Linked DNA regions of Homo sapiens. Each later gene encodes a partner of the first gene's protein in a complex. Each region holds a gene or a part of one and is shown in the gene's direction. Other genes may lie near its edges. The genes, in order: STRIP2 and PDCD10.

What was found.
Region 2: STRIP2 (region 1) and PDCD10 share a complex: the UniProt entries of both Homo sapiens proteins name them as parts of the core of STRIPAK complex.

Annotation. Positions count from the first base shown.
Region 1 is NC_000007.14:129,432,204-129,448,747, forward strand, and holds the start of STRIP2 (striatin-interacting protein 2), read left to right. Parts: upstream 1-2,228; 5' UTR 2,229-2,269; coding exon 2,270-2,398; intron 2,399-7,818; coding exon 7,819-7,888; intron 7,889-11,820; coding exon 11,821-11,895; intron 11,896-16,544. UniProt on the Homo sapiens protein: Plays a role in the regulation of cell morphology and cytoskeletal organization. Required in the control of cell shape. Calmodulin-binding scaffolding protein which is the center of the striatin-interacting phosphatase and kinase (STRIPAK) complexes.
Region 2 is NC_000003.12:167,688,291-167,696,915, reverse strand, and holds part of PDCD10 (programmed cell death protein 10), read left to right. Parts: intron 1-1,193; coding exon 1,194-1,320; intron 1,321-8,625. UniProt on the Homo sapiens protein: Promotes cell proliferation. Modulates apoptotic pathways. Increases mitogen-activated protein kinase activity and STK26 activity. Important for cell migration, and for normal structure and assembly of the Golgi complex.

The DNA of each region.
Region 1 (16,544 bases):
CTAGGAATAGGCAGGAAAAGAATAAAGCATCAAAACTGGCCACTCCTGTCTGCTACCACTGTTGGGATCCTGCCGATTGATTAGGCTCACAAAAGAATATGAAGTTCTGGGCCTGTTAACCTTAGGGCTCTGACTACTTAGGAGGAGAAGTACTGGGAAGAAGAGAGATAGAATAATGAATTCTTTCTATTAAGAAATCCCAATGGGCTGTGCTGTGGCAGGTTTACCACACTGAAGCAGTGATGAGCAAGGCGTGGGTTGTGAACTTTAAAGCAGGGTGTAAATTTTTAAGAGTTTAACAAATTATACCCTGAAAAAAATCCAAAGTCAAGTAGTTCAGGCCTTGAGCCAGGGACTTTCTTGGAAATTCATATCAATTCAGTTCTGTAAACGCCACACTCCCCACCCCCCACACCCAGCCCCCCGCCCCGAGACATTTTTGGTTGTCGCACTAGCGGGAGGATACTACTGGCATCTAGTGAAGAGAGGCCAGGTATTCTGCTAAGCATCCTACGATGCACAGGACAGCCCCCTACAATAAATATTCAGCCCCAATTGTCAATAGTACAGAGACTGTGAAACGCTGCGTTAAACGTACATAAATTAGGGGCATACAAAAATGAGCTAAATTTGGTCTTACTCGCTAGGAGCCTATATGTGGGTGGGGAGAGGAGTGGGACTGGAAGAGGAAAAGGAAGATGTGAAGGTACAGTAAGGAGATATTGGACCAGGGTGAGAAAACCCAAAAAGCTCCAAAGAGTGCTCTCAAACTTGCCTTGTTCTGTCGCCTATGAACTGGCAAAGGGAAAAGTGAGAGAGAGAGAGAGATGTTAAGAAAGGGACAGGGTTGTCCCTAAGGTATGGGAAGGTGGAGTAATTCCTCTAGGCCCTTTGCTTTGGGTATATCGTGGAAAATGTTAGGATTTTGGATCTAGGCAGAACTGGTTTGACACCAACACAACCTGAATGAGTTGAGGGCTAAAAGGAAAGCTTTGTGGAGGAGGAGGAGGTGACAACTAACTAGAATCTTTATGAGAGAAAAGGAATCAACCAGGAGAACAGAAGACAGTCTCCTCCAGAGAACAGCATAGGCAAGACCCTGAGACAAGATAGAATATGATACCTTGGAAACCGCAGGGAGGAATCTGCAAGTGCCGGTTTCTTCATCAGTAACATTGGATTCGTAAAAACACCCTGTCGGGGAGAGGTATGATGTGATATTTGGAAAGCGCTTACTGCAGTGCCTGGCACCAAGCTCAGTTCAACAATCCCCCAGACCCTTCCTAAAGCAACCAGGCTGGGGACAGCGATTTGGTCCCACCTGTTCCCCTGAGCCTACGTCTTTGGGGCTTCTATTACCAAGCCAGACTGTCTAAATATTTACTACAAGCTACTTTTTAAATTCAGGAGAGGGCAGATCAAACAGCCTCTTTTGCCCCCAGTAACAATGAGCCCTTAGGAAGCATCTAAGAGAGAGGAAGGAAAGAAAGGACTGGCGAGCAGGTGAGGGTGGGGGCTTGCTCTACCCTCAACATTTACACACCATGAGGAAGAGGCCCCCTACAGCAGAGAAGGGCAGATGACAGGAGCAGCCCTCGAGGGCACCACCAATTTCAGTGATGGAAAAACTCCCCCATCCCACCCTTAGACCTCCAGTCTCCCAGCCAAGCCCTAGCTCCGGGCGAGATGCGTTCTCTTCAGAAAAACGCTGAGAATTCTCAGCTTCCAGAGACAGCGAGTCCCTCGTTTCGGGCGATGTCCCTGGCCACCTGGCGGTGCCATCCCTCCCCTGAGACTAAGCGGGATATGGGACGTGTGCAGGAGCCGGGATATGGGGGGCCGGGTCGGTGGTAACAGGGAAACGGAGACTGCTGTGGAGCAGTAGGCGGAGACTAGAGCTCCGGAAAAGGTCGCTACAGGGACGGGGGTGAGAGCTGAGAGACACCGAGTGAGGAGCACAGAGATAACCCGCCTGATCTCAAGGCCCAGCTTTCGCGAGGTGTGGAGCCTGTAGCTAACCTAGGAGTCTCCGTCCGCCAGCAATGCCGCAGGACTAAAAAGATCCCCTCAAAAATCTCTTCATTGAGCCCCCACCTCCTCGAGTCCCGCTCCGGCCGGTCGAGCAGCCAATCGCCTCGCGGGGCGGGGTTGCGGCGAGCTGCCGTAACCAATAGAGGTGGAGGGGGCGGGGCCTGGCTCCCGGCGCGCGGCGGTAGGGTCGCCTCCGGCAAAGCGAGCTGAACCCTGAGGGGAGCCGCTGACCAGCAGCATGGAGGACCCCGCCGCGCCTGGGACCGGGGGCCCGCCCGCAAATGGCAATGGCAACGGCGGCGGCAAAGGGAAGCAGGCGGCGCCCAAGGGCCGCGAAGCGTTCCGAAGCCAGCGGCGGGAGTCAGAGGTGAGGAGCCCGGAAAGCTTCGGCTGGGGCCCGGAGACGCCCGCCGGCGGGAAGCGGCGGCTGAGGTGATTCGGCCTCGGCCCCGGAGCCCTCGGCGCGCTCGATCAGCCCCGCGCAGTGGGCGCCTGCGGGGTCCTAGCGGCTGAACTCTGGGCTCTTTGGCCCGGACCAGTGTCCGCCCGTCTCCTGCCGCGGGTTGGGGGCTTTCTAGCCCTCTGGCTTTCCCCCGCTGCGCGAAGATGAGCGCGGTATTGAGCGGACCAGATACTTTCCAAATATTTATCTCACTTAATCGCTGCAGCCCCCTGAAGCAGAAATTCCGATCCCAGTTTATAGACGGGGGAACAGGAGCGGAGAGGTTAAGTGACTGGCTTGAGGGGTGGGAGGCTGGAGCTCAGCCGCAGGAAAGCAGGATTGGCGAGTGGGGCAACCGCAGTCCCCCTCCCAGGCTGCCTGCGGCGGGCCCCTGGGCCAGCCGAGGGACTTCTGCCCGTTCCCTGCCCGTCCCCTTCCCCCCGTAAGTCTTAGGCCGTTTCGGGAGCGCCTTCCGCGGACATCAGGCCCCTGCCTGTGAGGGCTGAGCGAGACGGGATTCAGGCAGGGGCAGTCCTGGAGTGGCTATCTGGAGGGAGCAGTCGCAGGATACAGATAGGAGTGTGAATATTTCGATCTCTTCCTCCTCTCCTGAAAAAAGAAACCCTATCTATGAAGATGAAAGCGTTGAATTATTATCACTTCCCTATCCCCTCATTGAGGCAGTTCCCATCAGTTGGATCTGAGCGGGGATCAGAATAGACGACAAAATATCAGATGTGGCAGGGTCTGCAGATATCATCTGGTATAACCCTTTCATTTTACAGACCTAAAAAAAAGAGGAGTGACTTGCCCAAGATCAGACATCTGGCATAGTTGGTGGTCAAGAACACCAGACTTTGGAGTAGTCAGACCAGGTTTTGACTCCTAGCCCTATCATTTACTACCTGTGTGATTTTCGGCACATTACGGAACCTCTCTGAGCTCCAGTTTCTTCATCTGTAAGATGAGATTAACACTGCCTACCTCAGAAGGTTGTGATAAAGTCAAAATGAGATAATTGACTATAAAATGTTTGGCACAGTGCAGGCACAATGCATGTAATTAGTCAGTACATAGTAACTCTTAGTATATTGCTATCATCATCATCATCATCATCATCAAGTGGCAGAGCTGGTACTAGAAACCAGGTTTTTGGCATCCCAGACCTTGCCTTACCATTTGAATAGCATTTCAGTTTCCAAAGTGATTTCATGTATGCTTTACATTTTGATGTAGGTAGAGTAGGAGGAATCCATTCATTTTTTTTCAAGGTAGAAATGGAGATGAAAAGACTGGCCCAAAGTCACCACCTTGCAGAGGCAGAGAGCTCAGCCCTCCTGTCTTGCTAGATGATACCCGCCACATCATCTCCCTCCCTACTTCAAGATGAGTCTGGTCTTTTAGGGCACCCTGTACCTCCTTCCCCCACAGAGACATTGTTCTCGTTCAAATGTTTTTTTGGGGAGATGAGCCATTCATTAATTCAACAATTATTTATCGAGGACTTTCTGCCAGCCACTGTTTTAGGTGCCAGGGATATATCAGTGAACAAGATAGGGTCTTCGCCCATGGGGAGACAAATTGTGAGTAAATAAATAAAATAATTTCAGAATGATATGTTCTATGGGGGGAATAAAAGTCTCTGCCTGGGTCTCCCTTCTAAAGTTGCAATCTGTTCCCCACCTGTCAAGTCTTCTTCAGGCAAAGGCTCTGAGAGTACAGTCCTTTGCTTTTGCCAGTACTTTGCAGTGTCCAGAGACTCGAAAGCTTTCCACCTGCACCGCGGTTTACCTGCTGATTGTCTGCAGCTGCACTCTTCATGCCTGGAAATGAACAACTGCTGCGATCATCTCTATCTGGGCTCATTGCCTGCCAAAAGCCTGGCTGGAAAGATTAGCTTTCCTCTACCTTCTGCTGCAGCAGGACTCCTTTTACCTGCCAGTACATCCCCTATTACCACAGTACCCAGGTGCCAGATCTGCTTTTCTTCTCTCCCTCTTTTTGCTTTCCTGTGGAAGGCAGTCCTTAGAGGAGATGGGATTTTTTTCCTCTCTAGGGCTTTTAGAAAATCACTAGAAGAGAATTACTGTGGCACAAGTCAAGAGAGCCTCATCGTGTATCACTGTTTATGGAAGCACTGTTGACCTACCTTCTCCCACTGGCTTAGTGTGTGAACATCCCAACCTAAAAAGGAAGCTAAAGAATAATTGTTTGCTTAATAAGAAGAGTCTTAACCTAATAAAAGGATTCACCTCAGACCTCTTTTAGCCAGATCTGGTTTATTGATCTCAAACTCCTTGACAAAGTTTTAACTGGTCTGTGGTAAAATGAGGAAAATTCAGGTCATCGAAGTGAGTTTTTCTAAAAATTTAGTTCAATATATTAAATTTAAGAATGTATACAATTTAAAACAGTGTTTTTCAAACTGCTATAGGGGGCAACCTGTTAATTGAGGCTAAAATTTTTATTTTAAGAAATAAAGCCAGCATGATGGCTCATGCCTATTATCCCAGCACTTTGGGAGACTGAGGCAGGTGGGTAGCTTCAGCCAGGAATTCGAGACAAGCCTGGGAAATGTAGGCAGACCCCATCTCTACAAATAAATAAAAAATAAAAAAGATTTAGCCAGGCATGATGGTGCGCGCCTGTTGTCCCAGCTGCTCAGGAGGCTGAATCACTTAAGTCTAGGAGGTTGAGGCCGCAGTGAGCTGTGATCATGCCACTGCACTCCAGCCTGGGTGAGAGGAAGACCCTGTCTTAAAAAAAAAAAGAAAAGAAAGAGAATAATAGAAAATATCACTGCATCACATGCAGTAAAGGTAAATATTTTGTTAAACTTTTGTTCCAGTTTGTGTGTGTGTGTGTGTGTGCTGGGACGTAATGTAAAAGGTATCATTTTTCCAAAAAGTTTGAAAAACAATTTTTAATGGCTGTTCTTTATTCTGAGATTCTGTCTTTCATTTTTTGAATTTTTTAAAGTTTTTAAAGTCCTTACCTATCAGAATAAAACAGCAACAACCCTATGTCATTTGCCACTCTCCACCTTTTTCTTTTTCCCTACTGTTCCTTTTAATCCAAAAGTTTGGAAATCTTTGCTATAGTGGATTAAAACATGATTCGCCTTGTTTTTTTTTGTTTTTTTTTTTTTTGACAGAGTCTCACTCTGTCACCCAGGCTGGAGTGCAGTGGCGCAAACTCGGCTCACTGCAAGCTCTGCCTCCCGGGTTCACGCCATTCTCCTGCCTCAGCCTCCCGAGTAGCTGGGACTACAGGCGTCCGCCACCATGCTCGGCTAATTTTTTGTATTTTTAGTGGAGACGGGGTTTCACCGTGTTAGCCAGGATGGTCTCGATCTCCTGACCTCGTAATCCGCCCACCTCGGCCTCCCAAAGTGTTGGGATTACAGGCGTGAGCCACTGCGCCCGGCCAATTTGCTTTGTTGACAGTATAAATTGGCATAATGTTTTGGGGGAGCAACTTATATACAAAGAGACTTTAAAATGTTCATAAGATTTGATTCATTAATTTTCTTTATAAAAATCTATGCTTAGGAAATATCCTAAATATAGAAAAAAGTGTAAGTCTATTACAGTTTGTTGCATATAATAAAGGAAAATTAAAAACCATTTAAATATTCAATAAGGAACTAGTTAAGTAAACAAATAAATGTACATCCATTTATACAACCATTTAAACTAATAGTCATAATAATGTGAGAAGAATGCCTTTATAGTATAATATTAAAATCATAGAGTGACCACTCACATAGTGCTACGAAGTGCTAGGCCGTGTGCCTTTCCTATATTAACTCATTTAGTCCTTAAAATAACCCTATGAAGTAAGTCCTGTTATTATCCTCATTTTACAGATGGGAAAACTGAGCAGGTCATTTTCCAACAATTCGCTGACACCAACTGGATGTCCTACAGTTCAATTCGATTCTGACACTAACTACCTAGAATTAGCACAGACCCCCAAGTTAAGGGCTCAGTCCTACAAGGCCCTACGTTAGACACCAGCCATAGGTGGGATCCCCAAGCTATCTACACTTCAGCCTGGCCAACTACAAATTAAGCGGTTATCATGATCTTCCTTTCAGGTTCCATAATTTGCTAGAATAACTCACAGGATTCAGGAAAGCATGTACTTAGAATTATAATTTTATTATAAAGGATATGACTCAGAAACAGCTAAATGGAAGAGATGCGAAGGACGAAGTATGGGTTTGGGGTGATGCAGAGTTTCCTTATCTTCCCTGGGCAGCACTCTCCTAGCACATCTGTTTGTTCCCCAACCCAAAAGCTGCCTGAACCTAGTTGTTTCTGGGTTTTCCTATGGTGTTTCATTACCTAGACATAATTAAACTATTGGCCACATGACTGAACTTAATCTGTAGTACCCCTCCCCTCCCTGGATGTGGGGGTGGTGCTGAAAGTTAAACCCTCTAATCATGTGCTCCGTCTTTCCTAACATAAGTCACCTCATGAGCATAAATTCTGGTAAAGCTGACAGTGACTCATTATGAATAACTGACACTCCTATCACTCAGGAACTTCTAAGAGTTTCAGGAGCTCTGTACCAGGAACCAGGGGCAAAGAACAGTATATTTTTTATGTCACGCTGAGGCACAGAGAGGTTAACTTGTCCAAGATCAAATAGTATGTGACAGAGCTGAGATTGAAAATTTTAAAAATTCATATGTATGAACATATACAGGAAGGAAATATCCCAAAATGTTTAAGTTAGAAGATGGGATTATATTAAAACATATTTACTAGGATTATAAATTTATACATACAACGTCATGGGAAATGTAATCTTTACTACAACTTGGAGTGGAGATGTTGCATCATTTGACAATCCTAAAGTTGCAGAATATTAGAGCTAAAGAACCTCTTTAAAAATAAGGAACTATGATCCACAGCATGAGACTTGATCTATATCATACAGTGGGTTGATGACAGAACTGAAGCTAGAATCCAGTTCTCTTTGTTTCTGTCTGTCTCAATTTTATATAAATCAGCTAGATGCTCCTCTGGTCTGTGTTCATGTAGATTAGATATGGACACAGACCATAGCTTTCATATATGTTTGAGATCCTGGCCCTTTATTCAGACTTTCCGATTTTGTATAGGAATCCTCAGCCCCTCCCCACACTGAGACTCAAGTTTTGGCTTGGCGTAGGGTACCTCTGAGATGAAAGACCCAAATAGGACTCTCCTAACTGTCTCCCTGATCTAACCTTGGCCTCCATGAGGGGAAGAAGATAAATAAGGGTACAGTCTTCCCTTGGCAACCCCTTTTTCCAAGTTATCCCAGTTACCAACAAAATTTCTCTGTTACAGGGCTCTGTGGACTGTCCCACTCTGGAGTTTGAGTATGGAGATGCAGATGGGCATGCAGCCGAGTTGTCAGGTATGAGGTAGATGGGTCAGTAGCTAGTGGAAGAATGGCCAGGAGGAGAGGGAAGGGGCCTGTGATCTCCCTGGAAGCTTGTCTGTTCTCACCAAGTGGCTGTTGAACAAAGGCTGTTCTCCACATTCCTTTTCCTCTCCATCCAAGTGGTAAATATCTCTTTGTTTGTCTTCACATTTCCTTCTGTGATTCTCCTTGGCTATGGTATTCTTCATTCTGTCATTCTATCACTCTTTCCTGCTCACTCTTCTTTATTCTCTTTGAAAATAACTGATTTGGTGCACTCTCAAATCAGTTTTCTCTCCATCTTCTCCATATTCCTTCTCTTTTTCTCTTCCTGTCACCCATATCTTTGCCTGCCTACTTCTTTCTGCTGCCCTCTTTCTATCCCATGCCATCTCTTTTTCCTTTGTCTCCTCTACCTCCATCTTTTCCTTCTTCCTCTCGCAACTGCCCCTTATTAAAATCTCAGCAAAGTCCGAGGAAAAACTATAGTCAACTGGCCAGCTGAGCAAGGCTGGACATGTCACCTGCATCCATCATAGTAGAGTTCTGCTTGGATGTTTATGAGCTGGGGTTAAGTAATTCCATTCTTCTTTCAGTGCTGGCCTGCTTGTCTCTGTCTGGATTTTTAGCTTAGGGTAAATGTGATCTCCTCACATTAAGGGCCTCCATGTTACATGTGCTATGAATGCCAGTTATTAATAAACAAGCTTTGGGTGGAGATGTGTGAAATTTAAATATTCTGTCACATGGAAGTGATACTTTGAGGCATGCTTTTTCAGAGAAAAGAGACAAACAATTTTAAAGACGTTCTTGTGCATGAGCACAGAGAATAAATTTTGTGATGAGTGACAGAGAAATAGAGAGCTAAGTTTAATAACCAACAAAGGATTAGAATTCATAATAGGAATATGATATAAATATATATATATTTTAAAGAGAGGAGAGAGATGAGCAACCCAACAAAGAAATGGGCAAAGAATATAAATGGGAATTTATAGAAGAAAAAGCCAAATGGTCAATAAATATATGAGAAGATATTGAACTTTATTAGTATATGGGGAAAAGCAAATTAAAATAATAAAATATTATTTCACAATCATCAGAGTGCAAAACTTAAAAGCCTGGGGTTGGTGAGGGTGCAGAGAAATTAGTACTTTTATGCACTGCTAGACATGGGGGGAGCAGAGTATAAAATTGAAAAGCATTTTGCTTATATCTTGCAAAGTTGAAGATGTGCACATATTGTGACCCAACAAGTCTACTCCTAGATATCCACTCTAAAGAAAATTACACTTGGGCACAAGAAAATGTACAAAGATGTTTATTGCAGCCTTGTTTATCAGTGTAAAAAGTTGGAAACAACCTACAATGCTCATCAGTAGGGAAATGGATAAACTATAGCATATTAGTGCAGTAGGCTATTGAATAGCCATTAAAATAATAATTGATCTAAATCAATATATTTATTTTTTATTTTTTTATTTTTGAGACAGAGTCTGGCTCTGTTGCTTACGCTTGAGTGGCACACTCTCAGCTCACTACAGCCTTGAGCTCCTGGGCTCAAGTGATCCTCCCACCCCAGCCTCTCAAGTAGCTATGCCTATGGTCATAGGCATGCCCTACCATGCCCAGCTAATTTTGTGCCACCATGTCCAGCTAATTTTGTGCCACCATGTCCAGCTAATTTTGTTTATCTTTTGTAGAAACAGAGTCTCACCATGTTGCCAAGGCTGGTCCTGAACTCCTGGGCTCAAGTGATCCTCCTGCCTTGGCCCTCCAAAGTGCTGGGACTACAGGTGTGAGCCACCACACCTGGCCTCAACATGTTTCAGTATCAATAAATGCTTGGCCAGGTACGGTAGCTCACATCTTGTAATCCCAGCACTTTGGGAGGCCGAAGTGGGTAGATCACCTGTCAGGAGTTCGAGACCAGCCTGACCAATATGGTGAAACCTTGTCTCTAGTAAAAATACAAAAATTAGCTGGGCATCGTGGCATGCACCTGTAGTCCCAGCTACTGGGGAGGCTGAGACAGGAGAATTGCCTGAACCTGGGAGGCAGAGGTTGCAGTGAGCCAAGATCACGCCACTGCACTCCAGCCTGGGTGACAAAGTGAGACTCCATCTCAAATAATAATAATAATAATAAATGCTAAAGATAAAATTGGGACAAAGGATCAGTAACAAAGGAATTTATACAATAGGATACTGCTTGGATAAAAAAGTTTTTAAACAGAGCAATATCATATGTTTACAGGCATATGTGCATATAGCAAAAGTAGAAAAATAGGCTTGTGAAGGATACACACCAATTTCATTATAGCAGTTGCCTCTGGAGAAGGGAATAAGATAGACTGGGGAGCAGTCTGAAGCAAATATAACAAATGCTAACATTTGTTTGACCTGGGTAGAAGATAATACACAGGTGTCTTAAATGTACTATTCTGTTCTTACCTGTATATAAAAATTCATAATCTAAAATTTAAAAATAAAAAGACCAAGACTAAAGTTCAGTACCTAAGAGCCTTGCCCACTTTTCTGATTTGGTTTTTGGTGCTTTAATCTTAAAAATATATATATTCACCTCTCCACTAATGACTGAAGAATTTAAGATTCAGTGATGGGATTTGCTTCTGGTCACTCCTAGATTCTGGAACTTAAGACTCAAAAGCCCTGACTCCCAGACAAGGTGTTTCTCAACCATTAGACAGCTGGCTGGAACATAAGTGAATTTCTCTTGCTTTGTGAATTACCTGTGACCTGGTTAAATTTCCAGGAAGGGTCTCAGGTAGGGAGCAGAGATTTAAAGGAAATCTGTTCTATCATCTGTTGACTTCTGTATTTCAGTTCTTCATCTTCTGTAAGATGAGGGTACATATACAATGTTCTGGAGAGAGATAGAGAGAGTAGGAAAGGGCATTTTTATTTCTTTTCTTCTTTCTTTCTTTTTTTTTTTTTTAAGAGACAGAGTCTTATTCTGTTACCCCAGGCTGGAGTGCAGTGACATGATCATAGCTCACTAAAGCCTCAAACTCCTAAGCTCAAACGATCCTCCACCTCAGCCTCCTAAGTAGCTAGGACTACAGTCATGTGCCACTACACCTGGCTAATGTTTAAATTTTTTGTAGAGATAGGGTCATGCTATGTTGCCCAGGCTAGACTCAAACTCCTGGCCTCAAGCAATTCTCCTGCCTCAGCCTCTCAAAGTGCTGGGATTACAATCCTATAGGTCTGAGCCATCACACGTGGCTGGCATTTTTATTTCTCATAAGCTTTTTGCATTTTGTATTGAGAGGCTGCTGTTAGCAAAGTTAGATTTTCCTGGGCACAGCAGCCCTTTGACAACCATAGCTGTTCTCTAGAGTTTTTTTTGCAGCCTCTGCTTTGTGGCTGTGGGCAGGAATCTAAACTTCTATACCCTTTGAGGAAACTTAGCAGGGAGAGAATGAACTGGTTCCAACCCTGAAGAACCATCTAGCACTTACTTTTCAGCCCTTGCCATGGTTTCCTGATCCAGCACAAGGATCTTTCCTCTAAGTTTCAGGAGTTGTGTTGCCCTCCTCTTCTCTTAGAGATGGGATAGTTCCTGGTTGGGTTGACAAAGCAGGAGTTGCAGCCCTGAGAAACAGGAGTGATGAGATTAAGCTCTCTGTGCTGCAGTCCTCCTCTTGGCCCTCACCAAATGTTGAAGGCTGCCTTCTCTGCTGCAGCAGCCAGCTGGCAGGAAGAGGACAGGTTTGATGGTTTAATCTCCCAGGGACACAAGTGGCTATTTTTAACGTTGCTCTGAAAAGGAGGAAGCTAGCTTTGGATTCATTGGACACAGGAATGTGTTGGAAGCTTCAGCTCTTTCATGCCACCCTCTCTACTTTGGGCCTCTTCTTTAAGGATCTCCCGAATGTGACTGTTCTGTCTTTCCTGCCACAGAATTGTATAGTTACACTGAGAACCTGGAATTCACCAATAACAGGAGGTGCTTTGAAGAAGATTTCAAGACTCAAGGTAATTCCAGATCTTTACTCATAGAGACCTGCTTTTTCCTTTTATGATATACCAGCCTGATCTAGTAAAAGACTAAAACAAAGTGCGATCCTTCATCCCCTCTGTATTAGTTAGGGTTCTCTTAGAGGGATAGAACTAATATGATAAATAGATAGATATATATAAAGGGGAGTTTATTAAGTATTAACTTACACAATCACAAGGTCCCATAATAGGCTGTCTGCAAGCTGAGGAGCAAGGAGAGCCAGTCTGAGTCCCAAAACTGAAGAACTTGGAGTCCGATATTCGAGGGCAGGAACTATCCAGCACAGGAGAAAGATGTAGGCTGAAAGGCTAGGCCCATCTCTCCTTTTCATGTTTTTCTGCCTGTTTTATATTTGCTGGCAGCTAATTAGATTGTGCCCACCAGATTAAGGGTGGATCTGCCTTCCCCAGCCGGCTGACTCAAATGTTAATCTCTTCTGGCAACATCCTCACAGATATACCCAGGATCAATACTTTGTATCCTTCAATCCAATCAAGTTGACTCACAGTATTAACCATCGCAAGTCCACCCCTTGTCAGCTCGAACTCATACACATCTCCTGAGATCATACATAATCTTCAATTAAAGACAATAATAAGGGCATAGTTATGCCTAACATAATTGTACAAAGGATAACATAAATATCCTTTGTACAACTGGAAACTCACCAATCCCCAACCCAAATACTATTATATAAAGTTAACAATACTTAAATGCTGATATGAAGTCAATAAATCTTATGTCACATGATAAAGGAGAAAGAAAATAAAATGAAGATATTAATACAAGTGTATACACGCACAAACATGTTTTTAACAAAAGAAGAAGGAAATACTCATGACCAGCTGGTCACGTGGTCGTAGCTGGTATTGATGACTACCTTCTTCTACTACCCATTCTGTATTCCCTTTGCATTCAGCAAGCAGCTTGGCAGGTCGTGGTTTTTTTCCTGGTGGAGTAATCCAAACCTTCATTCCTGAGGGGTCTGGGTCATTTGTAGTCCTGCCTGGATTGGGGTGTTGTAGTTTCCCATCGACCTTAATCACAGGGCATAGTAATACTAAGAGACGCCCTAATGGATCTCCTGTATTCCATGCATACTCTTCCTTACCTCCGTTGTGGAGTAGTAGACTGATTTCATCTTGATAGTCTGGGTCAGTCACCCCAGCCAACACTGTAACTCCCTTCTTAGCCTGTTGACTTAAAGGTAGGAGGACCCCAAAGTGTCCAGGTGGCAATCTTAACTTCCAGTTTAATGGAATCATTGTTGTGTCTCCTGGTGGCAGTTTCCTCCCTCTGGAGCTAAAACCTCTAGGCCAGCAGAACGTAATGTCACGGGAACAGGAAGCAAAAATTTTGCTACTAGATCACTAGGGGTGATGGTGAGTGGTGCCACTTCCACCCCTTGATTCCTGGACCGGTGAATCCTGACTATGGGAAAAACAGTACCATATGTTGGATGCTGATTCAGAGCATACACGGCCTTCTGGAGAACTTTGCCCCAGCCCTGCAAAGTATTGTCACCTAGTTGGCATTGTAATTGTGACTTCAAAAGGCCATTTCACCGTTCTATCAATCCAGCTGCTTCAGGATGATGGGGAACATGGTAAGACCATGAGCATGAGCCCACTGCCACACTTCTTTAGCCATGAAATGAGTGCCTTGGTCAGAGGCAATGCTTTGTGGAATACCATGACGGTGGATGAGGCATTCCATGAGTCCATGGATGGTAGTCTTGGCAGAAGCATTGCTTGCAGGATAGGCAAACCCTTATCTGGAGTAAGTGTCTATTCTAGTGAGGACAAACCTCTGCCCTTTCCATGACAGAAGAGGTCCAATACAATCAACCTGCCACCAGGTAGCTGGCTGATCACCCTGAGGAATGGTGCCTTATCCAGGGCTCAGTGTTGGTCTCTGCTGCTAGCAAATTGGGCACTCAGCAGTGGCCGTAGCCAGGTCAACCTTGGTGAGTGGAAGTCCATGTTACTGAGCCCATGCGTAACTTCCGTCCCTGCCACAGTGGCCACTTTGCTCATGGGCCCATTGGACAATGACAGAGGTGCTGGGGAAAGAGGCTGATTGGTGTCCACAGAACGGGTCATCCTATCCACTTGATTATTAAACTCCTTCTCTGCTTTGGTCACCCACTGGTGAACACTCACATGGAGTACAAATATCTTCATAGTTTTTGACCACTCAGAGAGGTCCATCCACATACTTCTTTCCCCAATTTTTTTGTCACCAATTTTCCAATCATGCTTCTTCCAAGTCCCTGACCATCCAGCCAAATCATTGGCTATAGCCCATGAATCAGTATTTAATCGCACATCTTACCATTTATCCTTCCATGCAAAGTACACAGCCAGGTGCACTGCTCAAAGTTCTGCCCACTGGGAAGATTTCCCTTCACTGCTGTCCTTCAGGGATGTCCTAGAAAGGGGCTGTAGTGCTGCAGCCATCCACTTTCAGGTGGTGCCTGCATATCGTGCAGAACCATCTGTAAACCAGGCCCTGGTCTTCTCTTCCTCTGTCAACTTATAGGGAGCTCCCCATGAGGCCATCAGTGCAGGCTGGGGGAAAGAAGCCAGGGTGGCAGGACTGGAGACCATGGGCATTTGAGCCACTTCCTCATGTAACTTACTTGTGCCTTCAGGACCTGCTTGAGCCCGATCACGTATATACCACTTCCATTTGATGATGGAATGCTGCTGTGCACGACCCACTTTATGGCTTGATGGGTCAGAAAGCACTCAGTTCATGATAGGCAGTTGAGGTCGCATGGTGACTTGATGACCCATAGTCAAACGTTCAGTTTCCACCAAAGACCAGTAACAGGCCAAGAGCTGTCTCTCAAAAGTAAAGTAGTTATCTGCAGAAGATGGCAGGGCCTTGCTCCAAAATCCTAAAGGCCTCCACTGTGATTCATCTCTGGGAGCCTGCCAAAGGCACCAAACAGCATCCCCATCTGCCGCTGACACCTCAAGCACCATTGGATCTGCTGGGTCATATGGCCCAAGTGGCAGAGCAGCTTGCACAACAGCCTGGGCCTGTTGCAGAGCCTTCTCTTGTTCTGGACCCCACTAAAAACTGGGTGGGGTCCAGATAAATGGGCAGGAATAACACACCCAAATGAGGAATGTGTTGCCTCCAAAATCCAAATAGACCCACTAGGCATTGTGCTTCTTGGTTGTAGGAGGGGCCAAATGAAGCAACTTATCCTTCACCTAAGAAGGAATATCTCAACAGGTCCCACAGCACTGGATCCTTGGAATTTTACTGAGGTAGAAGTTCCCTGAATTTTAATCAGATTTATTTCCCGTCCTCTGGCACACAAATGTCTCACCAATAAGTCCACTGCATTTGCTACTTCTTGCTCACTGGATCCAATCAGCATAATGTCATCAATGTAATGGACCAATGTGATATCTTGTGGAAGCAAAAAGCGATCAAGGTCTCTCCGAATAAGATTATGACTCAAAGCCAGAGAATAGATATACCTCTGGGGTAGGACAGTAAAGGTATATTGCTGTCCCAGCCAGCTGCAGGCAAATTGCTTCTGGCGGGCCTTATGGACAGGAATGGAGAAAAAGGCACTTGCCAAGTCAATGACCACGTACCAGGTACCAGAAGATGTGTTAATTTGCTCGAGCAATGAAACCACATCTAGTACAGCAGCTGCAATTGGAGTCACCACTTGGTTAAGCTTACGATAATCCACTGACATTCTCCAAGATTCATCTGTCTTCTGCACAGGTCAAATGCGAGAGTTGAACAGGGTTGTGGTGGGAATCACCACTCCTTTGTCTTTCAAGTCCTTGATGATGGCACTGATCTCCACAATCCCTCCAGGGATGTGATATTGTTTTTGACTTACTATTTTTCTAGGTAGAGGCAGCTCTAATGGCTTCCATTTGTCCTTTCCCACCATAGTAACGCTCACCCTACCAGTCAGGGAGCCACTGTGGGGGTTCTGCCAGCTACTAAGTATGTCTATGCCAATTATGCATTCTGGCACTGGGGAAGTGACCACAGGATGAGTCTGGGGGCCCACTGTAAGTCAGGCCTGAGCTAAAACTTCATTAGTTACCTGACCTCCATAAGCCCCTACTTTAACTGGAGGACCACAATGACATTTTGGGTGCCCTGGAATCAATATCAGCTCAGAGCCAGTGTCCAGTAGTCCCCGAAATGTCTGATCATTTCCCTTTCCCCAGTGCACAGTTACCCTAGTAAAAGGCCAGAGGTCTTCTTGGGGAAGGATGGGAGAAAAATTCACTGCATAAATTGTTGGTAATGTAGTGGGGTCCTTCCTCAAGGGAACCCGGCCTCCCCTTCATTCAGGGGGTTCCAGGTCTATTAACTGGCTCAAGTCTGGAAATTGAGAGGCCATGATTCTCTGTTTTTATAATTCAAATTAGTCTTTCGTCCATTCGACCTACAAGTTTTCTGCTTGTATAAAGTAGGAATATAGTAGGCTTCCTATCAGTTTCACTTCTAGAAACACTGTGATTAATTAGCCAATGCCACAGCTCTACATGAGTCAGACTATTCTGATTGCTCCTTTGCCTCTGCCATCCATTATGGTAGCTATGCTCACCTTGCCTTTGATGGTCGAGTGCTTCCA
Region 2 (8,625 bases), on another chromosome or scaffold:
ACTGTTTTCCCTCCCTCCCTTTCACTTATGATGATGATGGTGGTGGTGGTGATAGTGATAGTGGAAGCTAATGTAGATAAAATAGAAAAATGGTTTTTCTTGCTTTTTATATTTGTGAGATTTAATTACTTGAACTTTGTTTATGCTGCATACTTCAATTTTTCCCCCCTTTATGTTTGGTGAGTTTCAGTTTTACTAAAAGATAAGCTTATTTGGAATGTGTTGACTTTAAGCAAACAACAGTTTGAAAGTAATGAGGTTTTTGTTTTGTTGTTTTTTTAACTTTAGTACAGCATCTGTGTTTCAAGCACAGATTTAAGAGAATAATATAACCATCCTTTTTACTTTTCTTATTTTTTTTACTTGAAATTATTTAGACGTTGGTTTTACTTAAGTTTAGTAGCAGTTTTCCCACTAATTTAGAAAAATATGGACATATAATTTCCCAGAATTATTAAGGAAGAACACAAAGCAGGTATTTTAACTGATTCCATGATTTTAAGAAAGCCCTTATCATTATTTAGAGTTGAGCATTTGCAGCCCATTAGGCCATAATATATTGATGAATTGGTAGAGTTGTAATGCTTCCAAGTCTGCAATGAATCTAGTGAAGTCTCCTTTCCAAAATTGGTGTTCTGTGATCCCAGCCTGTGTGTTGGATTTGTGCTGGTGTTTTTGTTTTTAAGTGAGATTTCAAAAATGTGTAGAAGATTTTATTAGATTATTTGGGGTTTTAATATGATGAAGCAATGTATATTAAATATAGGGGTTTTAAATTTTTAATCTTTCCAGTTGGCAAGTAGATATTACCTTTGCACTAGTTATGACACTCATTATTTAATTTAAGGTTTCCTTGGGAAATGTAATGTCAGAGTACGGTTGAACTTAAGCCTCCCTTTTAAATCTGTTTTTTTTTTGTGTGTTTTTTTTTTTTAAGATTTCATGGGATGTCCTTTTGTCCCAAATTGAAAATATTTATTCTTTCTTTTTGTGATACTTTACTTGAAGGGAGCCCTGCTGTTGTTACTGGACTAAGTCAAACGCTAATGAATTCTGCTTTGCAACCTTGTCTTTCCTAATTATCTGGCCTTTCACCTCCCTCACCTGCCTTTGACCAACATTGGAAATTCTTAGATGTGATGAATTTGGCAGAGAGTCGCAGGATGTTTTTTATTATGTATTTATTTTATCAGAGTATATGATTGAACGACCAGAGCCAGAATTCCAAGACCTAAACGAAAAGGCACGAGCACTTAAACAAATTCTCAGTAAGATCCCAGATGAGATCAATGACAGAGTGAGGTTTCTGCAGACAATCAAGTAAGCAATTATTTGTTTTGTTTCTTCTTTTCTTAAAAGTACTTCCGAGGAACTACTCATCTACATTTTTTAATTTTGGTATGACTAACTTGAAATGCTTATTTGAAATAAAATCTCAAATTTTTAAATACCACATTTTATTAACTTTATGGCGTTTGGTTTCAGAGTACAGCATTTTTTAGAATGTTTAATTTTAAAACAACAATGAAATGTGCATAAACTGGAATGTAGTTTGAACTACATAAATGATGGGAAGATATAAATGTCAGATAAATGAATAGAGAAACTGGATATATCCTAGAGATTGGTAGTAAGATATACCAAAATAATTTTTATTTCAGAAATAGCAGCAGTCATTAAGGTAAGTAACGTACTCTTAGGCATGAGTAGTGTTTTCTAAGACTGACCAAATAGCCTCTAAATCCTTGCCTTTGGGGGATATAGGTTAAATAAGACCAAGAATACTCATGGGGCCAGAAGGCTGGCTGGTGAGCAGCAGCAAGAAGGGTCATCCTAGAGCAGTAGTTCTCAGACCAGGGACACTCTTCTGGAGTACAGTGAAGGGTGAGAGGGTAGGGGATTGAGTGAAAACATAATCCCTACATAAGTATCTTTAAACTAGAAAGTCTGATAATTTTCTTCAGCCTCAGTGGATAAAAAACAAAGAAAGCTGGGAATACTTGCAGTGTCACTATCAATGCATGGTTTTGGTGAAACCATAGGTAGATATTGCTGGGGAGAAAAGATTTAGCGCAGGTCTTTTTCTGGAAGAGGCTGTGACATATGTGGTAACTTTGAAGAACCTAAGGAGACTCACTTGGAATAAATAGTAACATTCATCTTTTGGAGTTTGGGCAGTGGGAGGAGTGGCAGCAGCCAGGCAGCCCAGCTTTGTGAAGGCCCTCAGCATGCCATGGCCCACATGCATCTGATATGCGCCTTCCCCACTTCCAGGATGCCCAAGAGGACGGTCAGCTCAGCTGATGGGACAGTGAGGGAAGATCCCAAAAGGAGATTGATGTGGTTGTCAGCTAAACCTGCTCTTTCAGTAGTGGAAATTGAAGCCCCAAAAGGTAGCAGGAAAAGATAAATCTTCAGGCAAAAAAGTGCAAACAAAAGAGAAAAGAGTAGGAAAGTGAAAACAAGCCAAAGTAGCTAAGAATAAAGATTTACCTGCAGAAAACAGAAAAACTAAAACTGAAGAGAGTCCAGCCTCTGAAGCAGGAGAGAAAGAAGCCCAGTCTGATTAATATCGCATACCATGTCTTATCAGTGGTTCCCCGTCTCTCTTCTTACATAATCCAGGAGAATATTTTTATCAACTATGTTGTAAATGCATGTTTTTTAGTAGCTCTAATGTTTTTTAATAGCTCTAGAAACATTTAAGGAGGGAATTCCACTGCATTCCATTTTTTAAGTGTAAATGCTTTTTTTTTTAAAGAGGTGAAATAATTTAATTTGCTGGTTATTTTTTGGTACAATGGGAAAATAATGTTGGATATTGAATTATGGGAAGCCTTGACTGTTATGGGTGTCAGCTTAACATTCCATAGATGGGTGGTTAGTTTTTATATCCCATAATATAAAGCATACTAAATGGCAAAGTGGAGTCGCAGTCCTGCATTTCATGTCTTGAACATTTTTAATTACTTCACTCTGTCACCCAGGCTGGACTGCAGTGGCATGATCATAACTTACTGCACCCTCAACCTCCTGGGCTCAAGCAGTCCTTCCACCTCAGCCTCCAGAGTAGCTAGGACTACTGGTGTACAACACCACACCAAGCTAATTTCTTTTTTTTTTTTTTAATTTTTAGTAGATAACCACATCTCCCTACATTGCCCAAGCTGGTCTCTAACCTCTGAGCTCAAGTGATCCTCCTGCCTTGGCCTCCCAAAGTGTTGGGATTACAGGAGTGAGCCACCACACCTGGCCTTAAATTACTTCTACTCTTCATGTTGTTTTTTAGTGGAATTGTTTCCTTGGGCAAACCACTCCTTGAGCCTGGCTCTACCTATCAGAATTGTGTGCACTCTGTAACATCTTTGGTCATGGTAGTCCTGTTTTTCTAATAACTTTGTTAATGTGCTGTGAAAGATTAAAGTATATAGTGTATATGCTATTAAATTGTGAATTGGTGGGACGTATGTGACAGCTTATCAACATTTGAAGGTACTGGTACTTGATAGCCTTTTAAGGTAATTTTGCCTCAGTTGTAAGCTGGAAAGTCACTGGAATAACTTTAGAGAATAATAATGATACGTGGCTTTTTAGATTTTGCAGTACATATGTTCAGAATTATGTACAAGTTGAAATGTCTGTGTACTGATCCTCAACACAACTGATGAAATCTCAATTATGAAAGAAAAAGAAAACATTCATCTTTTGAAAATAGTATTCTTTGTCATTCACATTGAGAAATGCTATTTTAGCTTGTTTGGATACCTAGCTAGTTTGGATACTCTCTTTTGAGTCACATAAAGAGAGGAATATGTCCCATAGAAAATAATGGTTCGTGATAGGTATGCAACCCAGCTATCAAGGAATGACCCTACTCTTTGACAATAATTAAGGGCCAGGAATATAAAAAAGGCTTTTAATTGAATAGCCAAAATCTGTGTCACAAGGGACAAACACTAAGGGTTTTTTTGTTTGTTTTGTTTGTTTGTTTTGTTTTTGAGACGGAGTCTTGCTCTGTCGCCCAGGCTGGAGTGCAGTGGCGCCATCTCGGCTCACTGCAAACTCTGCCTCCCGGGTTCATGCCACTCTCCTTCCTCAGCCTCCAGCGTAGCTGGGACTACAGGCGCCCGCCACCATGCCTGGCTAATTTTTTGTATTTTTAGTAGAGATGGGGTTTCACTGTGTTAGCCAGGATGGTCTCGATCTCTTGACCTTGTGATCCGCCTGCCTTGGCCTCCCAAAGTGCTGGGATTACAGGTGTGAGCCAACACGCCTGGCCTAAGGGTTTTGTATTTTACCTTTCCTATGGGAAAGCCCCAGCTTCCTTTTCTACTTTTAATATGTGAAGGAGGAAGATAATCAACTGTTCATGGAGTTTTATTTTTAATCTGGTACAAGTTGAGCATCCCTAATTTGAATATCAAATTCTAAATGCTCCAAAATCCAAAACTTTTTGAGCACCGTGACATGACACCATAAGTGGAAAATTCCACGTCTGACCTCATGTGATGGATGGGTTGTAGTCAAAACACAATCAAAACTTTGTTGTATGCACAAAATGTATGCATATATGGATGCACTTTATGAAACATAAATGAATTTCATGTTTATACTTGGGCCTCATCCCCAGGTCTAAAGACTTCTGGTCTCAAGCATTTTGTTTAAGGGATACTCGCCCTGTATAGTTAAAGTAAACATGTTTGGCCTGTAAAAGGATAAATTGTCAGTGATCCCAAACTTAGTTGTTTAGACTATTTATTTCTAAAGTTTTGAAATAATTTGGTAAGTTTTCATTTGCTTTGATAATCGTGTACTTGTTGATGAGCCATGACACATTTCTATGAAGATTTGACATTTAAAATAATATTTGCAGCAGATTTTGCTTCAGATCATCGAAGTAGGTTTATATAATCAATGTCATCTTAATAACAATCATTTATATAGGACTTATTATATGCTAAGCACTATTTTAATCACTTTACATTTATTTACTTATCACAACAACCCAGTAACAAGTGAGGAAATTGAAGCAGGCACAGAAAATTAGGTAAGGCCACAGAACTTACCTATTAAGTGGTAGAGCTGGATTTGAACCCAGGCAATCTAATGCCAGGTGTTCACTGCTGTTTCCCAATCACAGACTTCCAATGTTGATGTAATCTGGAGATTGAAAAATAGAGTTTCTGCCATTTGAAAGAAATGTGAAAAAGGATATTTTAACATAGAATGCCAGTACGTGAGAGAGATAACAGTATTGTGGTTGAAACTGGCATAGAAATGTAGGCCCAGAGCTCTCATCCTGTCACTTTGACATCCTCTTTCCCCCTACAGAGTCCCTGAGACATCTCTGCTAAACCGTCTGTGACTCTAGGGAGCTGCGGTTTGAAAACCACATTATTAGCAGCACATTTTAGTCATAAGGAAATTGAGCTTAAGAGTCTTGTCTATAGTCATTGACAGAGGCTTTCTTTAGGGTGTTGTTTTCTTTATGAGGGAGTAATAATACTTCAGTTCTGTTTTCTAGAGTGTACTAATTTAGCACAATTGAATTAAGAGTAATGGTGGCAATGAAAATTTACTTCCTAACCATTTGAGGAGGGATAATTTGCCCTGGCAAGTTTGTTGATATGTATGTTATTTCTGAGACTAAAATTCAACCACATATGAATAGCATAGATAGGCTAAAGTATAATTATTTGTATCACTGTCATATATTGGTACATTTTCATGTATGTTCTTACCATTATTAATTGACAAATTAGTGGATAAAATTGCACTAAAATAGAAAATGATTTCTTCTTCAGGCGTTTCTCCAATATTTTACTTTCTTATATCTAAGGTAGTTATCCCCTTTATTCATTTTAGCAACATTTTTCAATAAGCATATGTCATATACATATTACACCAAGTACTATAGGTGATGCTATAGATTGTATCAAAGTACAAGTAAAAAAGAATCCTGACAGCTAATAAATATTCAGGCAATTTTGAATATATTAGCAGACCTAGATTTGAATCTGTGTTCCAACATTTAGCTATGTAACCTTGGATATAAGTTGCTTAACTTCTGTCATTTTAGTTTGTGCCTCTGAAAATGAGGGTAATGACTTGTGAGAATTGAAAGAAATGATGTACATGAAGTGCCTAGCACAGAACCTAGCATACATTCAACAGTACATGCTATAATAACATTGTGAAATGAGGATTTTCCTCCCTTTTCTCAATGGAGTTGATAAGGAAAAATGATCCAGCAAATATTTCAAAAGGCCTTTTGATCAATGAATGTGTGTGCCTGAGTACATTTGAGCTATGCAAATATGTTATAAAATTAATTTGTATTTTTTTTGAAGTCCAATACATCTCAACTAATGGAAAACTAGTGGAGACTCGTGATTTAACAGACCAAAATAAAAAAGCCAGGCATTTATTTACTGTTTGTAATCTGCATTTGCATATTCTTAGGCTAAAATTCAGCAAGGTTTATTTGTTTTAAGTTAGGAGTTTTCATGAAGGGTTCAGAATAGATTTTTTCAGAGTTTTCCAGTCTAAACCAAACTCAACATAAAGCACAGGGATTCCCTTTCATTAGTGCATTTGCATAAATGCGTATCATGCAAATTTGGGTGGCATGATTAGAAACTCTACTTTTCTATTGCAGTTTTTTGATAAGATGTATGTTTACGTTTCATCTGAAGCCTTTGCCTTTCAGTGTAATGTTTCGCAAAGCTGCGCTATTAGGTTGGTGCAAATTGCTAAGTTCCTTCTCCTTCTACTCATACTATCTGCCTCTTATCACAGAATTCATCTGCACCAAGCCGCATTCATTAGTTATGCGATATTTATTTTACCCTCAAGTTTTTTCTCAGTTCTTTATCTGGTTAATTGTCTATAGTGGTTTTTTTGTCCTGGTATTTTCTCTCGTAGGAAACAAACTCTCTGGTAGTTACTAATATAATTTAGCTTCTCTATGTGCACACCTTGGTGCCATAAATGAAAATACTTTTCTGTGTACATATGGATAACATAATATTTGACATACATTGCTGCAGATTGTTTCTAGAGAACATTTTTTCTACAATTTGGTAGGCATTTAACAGTCTTTTGCCTCGTGTCCAAACAGAGGCTTAGGAATAAATGGCCTTGGTTGACAGAGAGCTCTGTTCCAATAAGGCATTAAACCTTAGCTCCAAGTTTTCAAACCTGACTCATCAGCAGTCACCTGAGGAGTTGCGCCTCCCCCCACCCCCTTTTAAAATAGAGATTTCCAGTATTTATCAGCAGGTCTTTCTTTTTTTGTCCAGCAAAACCCTCCCTTCTTCTCCCCTGTGTTTTTGTCTCCCTAGGTGCATGAGGCAACATGTTTCAGACCCACTCTTTTGACTTGTAGAATCTAGCCACTGTTATTGTATATGAAACATACGCTCATTTTGATGACTAGCCCCGGAAACACATTTTATTCCTCTTTAGCAGAATATTGAAATACACTACAAAGTAAGACTATATAAACTTCTGTCTGATCACTATGTAATTTGCTCCATTATATTCCATTTTAAATAACTCCATTGTGGATTTGGAGAAGCTTGCATATTTAGAGATTTGACATGTTTTATTTGTTGAAATTGTAATTTTTCTCACAGAATAGTCCTATGACAGCATTTTATTAAACAATAGTGGGTTTATGTCCATCACACCAATATACAAAGATTCAACTTAAGCCATAAATGAAAGGAATAGTTATCTAATTAAAAACTGCTGTTACTAAACCAGAGGCAAAAAAAAATTAGATAACATTTATGTAAGACTTACTGTCCTACTTGAATATGTAATGTTTCAATGTTTCAGCCCAATACCAGTGTTTGACCTGAGAGAGGTAATAAGTAAAATATTATTGAAATAATCAATGAAAATGGAATTACTACTTCAGAGTACTCTAAAATACTTTTTTAAAAAATATCAAAATTCTGTATGCTTTTAATTCTTAAAATTTCTACAAGCTTATTTACTGAAAAATATGCTGGGAAACACCCACATGCACACAGAAACCTGGACACTGAGGTTTTTTTCCCCTTGAAATAGGAATGTTGAAATGTTTTAGATAGGAAATAACTGAAATCTGGCATTTGTAATTAGTATTAGTAATAAAATGTTATGTTTAGGATGGTGCAGATTTCCATCTTATTCATTTCTTCACAGTTGCATTGCATTTGAAGTTTTTGTTGTGACTAACAGCTAAGAGAATGACTGTGAAAAAGAAGGTTTGTCGCAGAGAATGTGAGACTATTTGAGAATGCAGAATTACATCAAGTTCAATTTGGCGGAAAAAAATTGCTATGAGGTTAAAATGTGGAAATCAAAAGGGGCTAGTTAGAAAGGCAAAAAAAAGTTCAGAAAAAATGGTGCATGGATAGGAAGAACAGTCAACTCAAATGAGAATTATTCATTTCTTCTTTTTTTTCTTTAGAAAGGGGAGGGAGGTGATGATGCATATATAGTCAAAGGATGATTGCTGGGAAGGTTAAAGTGCAAGAATATTGTGATGTTGTCTCCTCTAGTAATTTAAATATTTTCCAAAGGGAATAGTGACTGATAGTAAGTGTTTGAAAGAGGAGGATATTTGGCTGCTAG